Linked DNA regions of Homo sapiens: regions 1 and 2 are each linked to region 3. The links come from fine-mapping of genetic effects on gene expression. A gene starts in region 3. Each other region holds a variant in brackets. All regions are shown on one strand. Distances are from middle to middle. Region 1 overlaps STXBP5 (syntaxin binding protein 5). Region 2 overlaps STXBP5-AS1 (STXBP5 antisense RNA 1). Region 3 holds the start of STXBP5 (syntaxin binding protein 5).

The links.
Region 1: its variant is fine-mapped to the expression of STXBP5 in whole blood (TOPMed, PIP 0.97).
Region 2: its variant is fine-mapped to the expression of STXBP5 in adrenal gland (GTEx, PIP above 0.99).

What each region holds. Positions count from the first base shown.
Region 1 is chr6:147,321,050-147,323,812 of GRCh38, reverse strand. All of the region lies in intron 16 of STXBP5 (syntaxin binding protein 5), which reads right to left. Among named protein-coding and RNA genes, the nearest start is that of STXBP5-AS1, 120 kb to the right of the region's middle. The variant G/A (reference allele first, on the strand shown) is at 1,225.
Region 2 is chr6:146,896,594-146,899,356 of GRCh38, reverse strand. All of the region lies in intron 7 of STXBP5-AS1 (STXBP5 antisense RNA 1), which reads left to right. Among named protein-coding and RNA genes, the nearest start is that of LUADT1, 260 kb to the left of the region's middle. The variant G/T (reference allele first, on the strand shown) is at 1,195.
Region 3 is chr6:147,203,019-147,205,781 of GRCh38, reverse strand. STXBP5 (syntaxin binding protein 5) reads right to left here and starts at 1,365. Exons shown (of 28, transcript NM_001127715.4): 1 at 1,100-1,365. The coding sequence starts at 1,249. It overlaps STXBP5-AS1 (STXBP5 antisense RNA 1), which reads left to right and starts at 1,168. Exons shown (of 11, transcript NR_034115.1): 1 at 1,168-1,369. LOC124901422 (a long non-coding RNA gene) reads left to right here and starts at 2,211. Exons shown (of 2, transcript XR_007059803.1): 1 at 2,211-2,763. RefSeq lists silencers at 1,223-1,412, 1,583-1,662, 1,683-1,732, 1,763-2,182.

The DNA.
Region 1 (2,763 bases), 120 kb before region 3:
AAAGTGGGAGTATTACTACCTAGTCACAATGTGAGGAACTTGTGACTGCCTATGAAAAGTACTTTGCAGATGGTCAAATTAGACAAAGGTAATATATTTTCATTATTAAAGAATTAAGACAGGCTGGGTGCAGTGGCTCACACCTATAATCAGAGCACTTTGGGAGGCCGAGGTGGGCAGATCACTTAAGGTCAAGAGTTCGAGACCAGCCTGGCCAACATGGCGAAACCCCGTCTCTACTAAACATACAAAAATTACCCGGGTGTGGTGGTGAGCACCTGCAATCCCAGCTACTCGGGAGGCTGAGGCAGGAGAATCGCCTGAACCTGGGAGGCAGCGGTTGCAGTGGGCTGAGATGGCACCACTGCACTCCAGCCTGGGCGACAGAGTGAGATCTCCGTCTCCAAAAAAAAAAAAGAAGAATTAAAGGCCAATGAAGGTTGATAAGAAATATCTGGGGAAGATTAATTTGGTGAACATAGGTAAGACGAAGTAGAACAGGGTCACCAATTGGGAAGTTCCTGTGATTCTGATGTGAAACAAGAAAAAGGGAGATTGAAACACATTAATGGAGTAAGAACAGACAAGGCTTTACATTTCAGGAAGGCAGAAACCTTGCAGCTATTAATACTTTTAACACTGGCACAAAAGAGGTACTCAATATTTACTGAATGAATTGGAGGTTGAGTAGAGGTAGGGTAGAGGAAGAAAAGAAGAAACAGTGAATGTACAATCAGACAGAAGGAAGGGAGGGAGGGAGGGATAAAGAGGTAGTTTTAGGAGACCATGGGGTTAAGTTTGAGATGATGGTAGAGAACTACAAGTGAAACTAGTCAGCAGGTATGACTACCTATTCCCAAACCTCATGAATAGTTAAATCCATGCTGAACTAAACTTGTCATTAGGATTTTAGAAAGGAAGAGATAAAGAGGGGTTTAAAAGAGTGTGAGACCTTCTGAAACAATACCTGCTATACTTGTACCAGAAAACTTCAAGTGTACTTGAAAGGCACATTTTTTTAAAAAATGTGAACAATTTTAGTGTGTGACTGCTTTTATTGTAAAAAACTCTACTATGACTTTAAGTTAAAAACATTTTTGATTGCACAACTCTTTGCCTAGTAATTGCTGTAGCAAAACATATGCAAAGCCTGGTTACTTCCGCAATTCTTAAGGCTTCTGCCTTGAAATGACAGTGTGTGAGAGAACAGCAGGAAGACTACTC[G/A]ATGTTGAATTTCCTGCCACCAAACTCAGAGGTAAGAACCCTTCTGAATTATTCAGTTGGTATTTCTAATGTGGAAGACCATGGCACCTCGTGTTTTGATGACATACATGCTAGGAAACAGCGAAAGTTGTTCAGACTTCAGGGTAAATGTGAATCACTGAGGGCACTGCTTATACGAATTGAACTACAGTTCACTTCTGGCTGGTCAAGGTTTGCAAGGCAATGCATTCAGAACTCTACACTGGCTGATGCAAAATTTCTGAATTATTCTTAGGGAAATACCCACTAATCAGCTACAGCTCTCCATCTCAAGCGACAGAGTAACAACTGAGGCATTTCATTTCTTCCCAGAGTCAGCCTTGACACAGGAGTAGACTGAAGGGTCTGAGTGGTCTATCTTCTACTTCTATGAATTAGGTATAGAAGGTTAGGGTCAAGGAAGTGTCCTCCCTCCCTCTGGCATATTAAATGTGCACGACAAATTCTCAAGAGCAGAACCAGGCATTCCAGGGATAATTTTAGAAGTACATATATGGGCACATTTAAGATTTAAGTGACCAGGACACACAGAACTCATGGAATTCTTATTTTAGTTAGTATAAGGAAACAAAAAAACGTTCTTAAGTAAAAATAAAAAGGCAGCCAAACATGATGCAAAATGGTAAAGGATGAGAAACCTAAGCCAAGAAATGAAAGCAGGTAAGTTACATTTTAAAAATATGAAATGGGAAGAGGGTGTTATGCTTTATTCTAAATGGTTATGGTATAATTTTAATGTTTTTAATATATTCAAGTTGATTTGTTTACTTTTTAAGGAAAAAGTTTTATAAAGAGTTCCATAATTTGTACAAACGTATTTTAAATGTTAAAGTGATGCGTAGAGCCTCACAGTTTCAAAATGATTGTTTGAGCAAGTACCTTGCAAAGGGACAATAAAAATAATTCAAAAACATAAAATTTCATTGCTAAAAGAAACAAGTCAAACGGCTGCCTTTTCTTTTTTACCTCTTTTTTTAAGAGACAGAAACTCACTCTGTCACCCTGGCTGGAGTGCAGCTATGATCATAGCTCACTGTGACCTTGAACTCCTGGGCTCAGGCAATCCTCCCACTTCAGCCTACAGGTGATGTCGCCACACCTGGCTAATTTTTTAAAAAACTTTATTGTAGAGATGGTATCTTACTATGTTATCCAGACTGGTCTTGAACTCCTGGTCTCAATCAATCCCCTTCCTTGGTCTTAAACAGCTGCTTTTAAAATGTTTCTTCAAATAAACCAATTGTAAACAAAGGCATTTTATATGAAAAAAGCCTCAATATTATATTTTAACATCAATTTTTGTTATACTTCTTACTTTAAGAAACTGGCCTCTAGGACTGTGGACCAAAACAATGTCAAGTTAATAAATACCTGCATTTATTTGAAGACTATTAAAAGAAAAAAATGAGGTATAAGTTGTTTGTGATTTTTAAAAAAATCACTAATATATAGATTTTAGACAAAAATGTCCAAAACTTGTACTTTATGTCTTTCACTAGC
Region 2 (2,763 bases), 310 kb after region 3:
CTATTGTTCGAGCTTATAAAAATCCTACATTCAACACACATGAAAGAGATGCAGAGAGATGAAGACATTTGTCCAAGTTACATACACAACTACAAAATAGCAGAGCTGGAAATTAAACCCAAATCTGATAGACACTGAACCCATCTTTTGTATATACCATGTGACCACTTCGTGCCTGGGGATGAACTGTCCTAGAATTGTTTGCATTTTAATCATGAGCAACATTCAAAAGGTAATGGAATGGGTTCCAAGGTCAAACTTCCAGACACTGGAGAAGGTGGGAGTAAAACAGTATTGGGTTTTAGGAATCTTCCCAGTGTTTGTTCCTGAGACAAGTCCCTGAGGTAGTGTCTTGTCAGTTCAGCTGGCATTTATGAAGCACATACATCCACCATACTTGATGCCTGGCTCTGGAAATAATACCGTTGTTATAAGCGATGCTTGTCTTCTCCTTCTCTTGACAACCTACCCCTCTCTTCTGGAAAGTTCAAGTTGTGGAACAATGTGCCCAGGATCTAGTTCTTTTCTTTTTCATTAAGGATAATTCTCTTCCTACATTAGCAAAATCATATGACATCAGTTACTAGGAGTGTTTAAATTTTTTCATATCTACACCATCGGCTGTAATTTTTGAATCTAGATTTCATCTGTTTATCCGTTGAAAACAGGAAGCATTTGGGAGATGGCTTGTAGTATGCCTCATATGTAGCATTTACTAAAATAAAGGACACTGGAGAGAGTCTAAGGTTTATCACCAAATTACACCAGTAGAAGCCTGCAAAGAGTCTCCAAAAAAAAATCATATTTTTAATTTGGCAAACTGAGTCTCTTTTCCATGAACACACATTCAGGTTATTGAAGGCAATTTTCTTGTCCTGCAAGTTTTTAATTATTTTTAATCCTAGTGAGACATGCTGAACTTCTTCATCTGCTCCTTGGGTGAGTGAGGTGATTTTTAGGATCCTCGCCTTTTCTGTCTCTCTCTCTCTCTCACAGAGTAGTCTGCTTAGACATCATTTTTCTTATCGTGTGGTGTCCAGGGTTAAAGATTTTATCTCAGATAGGGGTTCATGAGGCAGGAGTTCATGGTGCCTCCCTTTATCTGAAACCCACTTTTCATGCTGTCTTAGATATGGTCCACTTGTTTATCAGTTCTCTTCCAGAACTGGTTTATATTGAGCTCATTCGCTCAAG[G/T]TCTTTCCCTCACAAATTCTTTTAAAGCCAGTTCTCTGTCCTTAAAATCAACTGAATTTAACGTAAAAGACATACATTTAAAAATGTTGAAAAGGAGACTTTTCTATTTATGCTGATAGCATATCATCTTGTTAGTATCAATATATCTTCCTGGCCTTTCTAGATGTTTCTGAATCTTCATAGGAGTGGAGGGAGGTGACAGCGCTGCTGAAACAAAACAAGTCATGTGAAGAGAATGGTTGAAATTAAATGACAGGTCCATAGGGGTCCTTTCTACTGTCCTGTCTATTTTTGTATGGGCTTGAAATTTTCCAAAATAAAAAGTTAAAAAAAATACCCAAGCATTATCTTCTTGCATATACTTAGTCTTAGCCATCTCAGCTCACAATTTGACAGAAAATTTACCCAGTGTTTTCCTTAGATCAAAATACTTGATTTCAAAAACATTCCTCTCAGTTAAGTGGTAAATTTATCAGAATCCCTCAAGTTAGAATTAAGCATTAACAAATTAAATGAATAAGAACATTCTGAATTTATCAGGATCTCTATTAGTTTTGTTTCCAATCTTGGCTGTACCTGTGTTACATGTAAAAATATTGCCTTGTGTTTTTAATCCCTGACACGGTATCAAAATTGGCCATTTATATATATTTTGGGACCTTAGTGATTGACAGAGCTGAATCAAAGGTTAGACAGCCTTTGGCATCAATCTGTGAGGGGAACTAAACGTCACTGATTACAAAGACATCAATGGGAATATAACAAGTATAAGAAATCATATTTACCAGAATTCCTCTAGGGAAAAGTGGTTGGAAGAATTAGTTTGATAAGACCCTACAAACAAGAGAAGAGACTTTCCAGACTCGGGCTCAGGTGACTGTGAGGAATGTCCTACCTGATTCTGAGGATGGTTGGTCAGGAAAGGGCAGGCATATTTTGCAGAGTGTTAGGCACATTTGAGATCCCGACTAAATTGCTCAGAACAGTTCAGCACAGCCAAGAGCAGCTCTTCTTTTCTGCCACACCCTACAGCACATAACCTCTCTCCTTAATGCACACTGGGAAAATACTTTTAAAACATTAGTTTGAAGAGGCAACAAATTATTAACATGCTCTCTTGTTTAGGTGAGCCCTAGGTTTTAAGACTTAATTTGCAAGAATTAAAATTATAACCAGAATATTGGAAAGTAAAGAAATACTTCCACTCAAAAGATCTAACTCTAAGATGATTTTGCCCCATTTGGTCTCAAGAATTACACTGTTCCATGACCAGGCTAGGACTGTCTTAACAATTCACTATTCAAAGGAAAATATGCATGACTAAAATAAGTGAAGGACAATTGACTGAGCCACAGCTCAGGAACTCCCTGACACCCCCAAAGACAAACTGTCCCTTGGAAGACTTTACCAGCCCTGTGTGGCCAGAGCTGCTACAAGGGCTATTTCCAACATTTCACATAAGCACTGCAGACACAGGCACTGCAGATACGAAGAACATCAAATTCAGCCAACCAGCTTCAGGTTAAGAGAAGGGCAAATATAGTCAGAACAGTGCTTAGAAATGTTTAA
Region 3 (2,763 bases):
CAAAAATCTAGTCCAGTGATATACTTTAATTTCGCTTTTCCATAATACTGGTATTCCATAGAAGAAAATCTTTTATTAATATTCTATACTACTACATCCGACACCAGATGACTAAAGTTTGCAATGGTCCAAAATTCTGTAAACCCATTAAATGCAATTCATACTTTATTTTGGCAGTATTCATTTCATCATTACTTTATTTGGATGCTAACGCAAGTACTTCTAAGGAAAAGCTGTCATATAATTACTTTAGTCAAGCATTCAGTAGAGCAATAATCAAACCTCTATCCCAACATTTTACACTTGTAACAGAATGAAGATGAGTACAACATACATTTTTGCAATTTACTATTAAGGCCATAATCATTTTAGGGCATTAGACCTATATATATATATATATATATATATATGCACACTTTTAATTAACTCTGACATACAAATACATGGCTATTTATGAGAAAGGCAGGTATTAAAACCGAGGCAAGTTTGTGTTTCTCATTAAGCAGCTGGTGACTTAATTCGCTGCATCATTCTTTCTGAATTACAGAACGCTATGGCAATTATCGTGCCATTAACAGGCAAAAATCTCAGTACTTTTTAACAAACATAATGATAAAAAGAACCCTGTGATTTCATATCGTAAGCCACTTACACCACATTTTAAGGGAAAAGTGATGAGCAAAGGTGTGGTAGAACAGGTTTGGCTTTTTGATAAACAACATTCATTAGACACCGTTTCCAAAGGAAACTTCGAAGTTGGTGAATCATATTAAAACGCTTGAATATAAAAGCTTCCAGGTTATTACTGGCAGTGTCAGAATACGATTAAAGGTCGGATAATAGTTTGAAGCAACCTTGAACTGATTGCTGCATGTGCAAAGGGGAGAGAGAAAAATCAATGAAAAGGAGTAAGGTATCAATCTCCAAAACAACCCACCGAAGAAACGTTTGCCAAGGGAGGAGCGAGCCTTTTATTAGAGTTATTATTATTATTATTGGCGTTCTCTTCCCTTGCATTCCCATGTAAAGCCCGAGTAGCCCCCTTAAAACAACCCCAATTTTTCAATGACGGTGTCGCGGGGCTGCGCGCTCCGTTCACCTTGCAGAGCTGAAAGTGCTCGGACTGGAGCGTTTCCTGGATCTCCGGCTCCCGGTTCCCAGGCGGATGCTGCTGCTGTTGCTGCTGCGACGCCGAGGACGAGCCGGCGGTCAGGCCGTCCAGCACCTTCCTGATGTTGAATTTCCTCATGGTCTCGGAGGGGCTCCCCCGCAGCCCGGGAGGGGAGGCACAGGGGGTCCCCGGGCGGGGGAGACCACCCGGGGCCGAAGGCAGCTTCGACCGCGGAAACGGAGGAGTGGGAGTGTGAGGGTAAGGAGGCAGCTGGGGGGAAGCAAAAGATAATCCGAACAGGAAATACTGCGACGACAAGAGCGGCGGCCGCAAGAAACCTGGGCGGCGACCCCTCTTCCTCCGAGGCCGCCGCTGCTTGGCGCGGCTGCTGTGGTGCCGATTCAGCCGCCGCCGCCGCCGCCTCGCTCCGCGGCCCGGCAGCAGCAGCAGCAGCAGTGGCGGCGGCGCCCGAGCCCGCTCAGCCCAGCCTCACCTGGCCGCGGGCGGACTCTGCGCCGCGCCGCCGCCCCGGCTCGCCCCCGGCGCCGCCACCGTCGCCGCTGCGTCCATGGCCCGCGGCCGCGCCGCTGCTCGCCCGCCCCGGCCCCGCAGTCCCTCGGCGCGTCCTCCGGCTCCTTCTCCTCCTGCCGGGGGTCGCCGGCTCTCTGTCCGCGGCCGCCGCTCGGCCTCGCACACAAGGCGCCTGGTGTGGGTCCCCGCGCCGCCTGCCTCGCCCCGCCTCGCTCCTCCGCCGCTGGACCGGCCCGCCCTCGCCGCTCCCGAGCCCGGCTGCGTTCCTCAGGCGCCGCCGCGGCCGTCGGCTCTCCCCGCCCAGCCGCTCCCCATCGCCTGACAGGGCGCCTCGGCACACGGCACCAACGCCCGCCCGGAGCAGCAGCGGCAGCCGCGGTTACAGCGCGGGCCGCGGCGGTGGCGGCAGCAGGGCCTCCCAGGAGCCGGGCTGCGGTACCTGCGCATGCGCGCCGCAGCCCGGTTCCCCCACCCTGGCCCAGCAGGCCCCCAGCCCCCCAGCCCGAGCGAAGCTGGGGCTTAAATTATCTTCTGCGAAAATCCCAGACGCTGGCTAAATTTCTCCCACCCCAGTCGAGTTGCCAGAGTATGCAGCTGCTTCTCTTGCAGCTGGCATAGTAAAAATGTTGACGACTAACAAGCAGCAGGAAACCTTTCTTTCCAATTCAGTCATTACAGCAGGGGTTGATGCTTTCTCGCCGTTAATGGGGTGCACGCTCCTGGCCGCTGGCTGCAGTATTATTTTTCTTGCTTTATTGACGGGCGTTGTTTTTGTTTGATTGGATTTGAGTTTTGAAAAAGAGCGTCTAGACAACGATATGTCAGTGGCAGGAGGATGATGGACTTAGGTACTAGGAAAAGGAGAGAAACCTAGACGGGAAAAAACGGGTTCTTTCCTACAGCTGTTACTGTTGGTGGAACGTGTCTGGTCTTAGCAGTTAGCTGCTGGGATGGAAGAGGCTGCCAGCGGGGAACGGTTCCAGGGCCGGTGTCAGCCCGGGCCGATGACACTACCCCGCACCCAGCCCCTCGCCGGGGAGGAGCGCGGGTGGCAGGAAACGCCGCGCTGCCACTATTTTTCAGAACCTTCAATCTGCCCTGACGCTGATGAGCCACTCAGT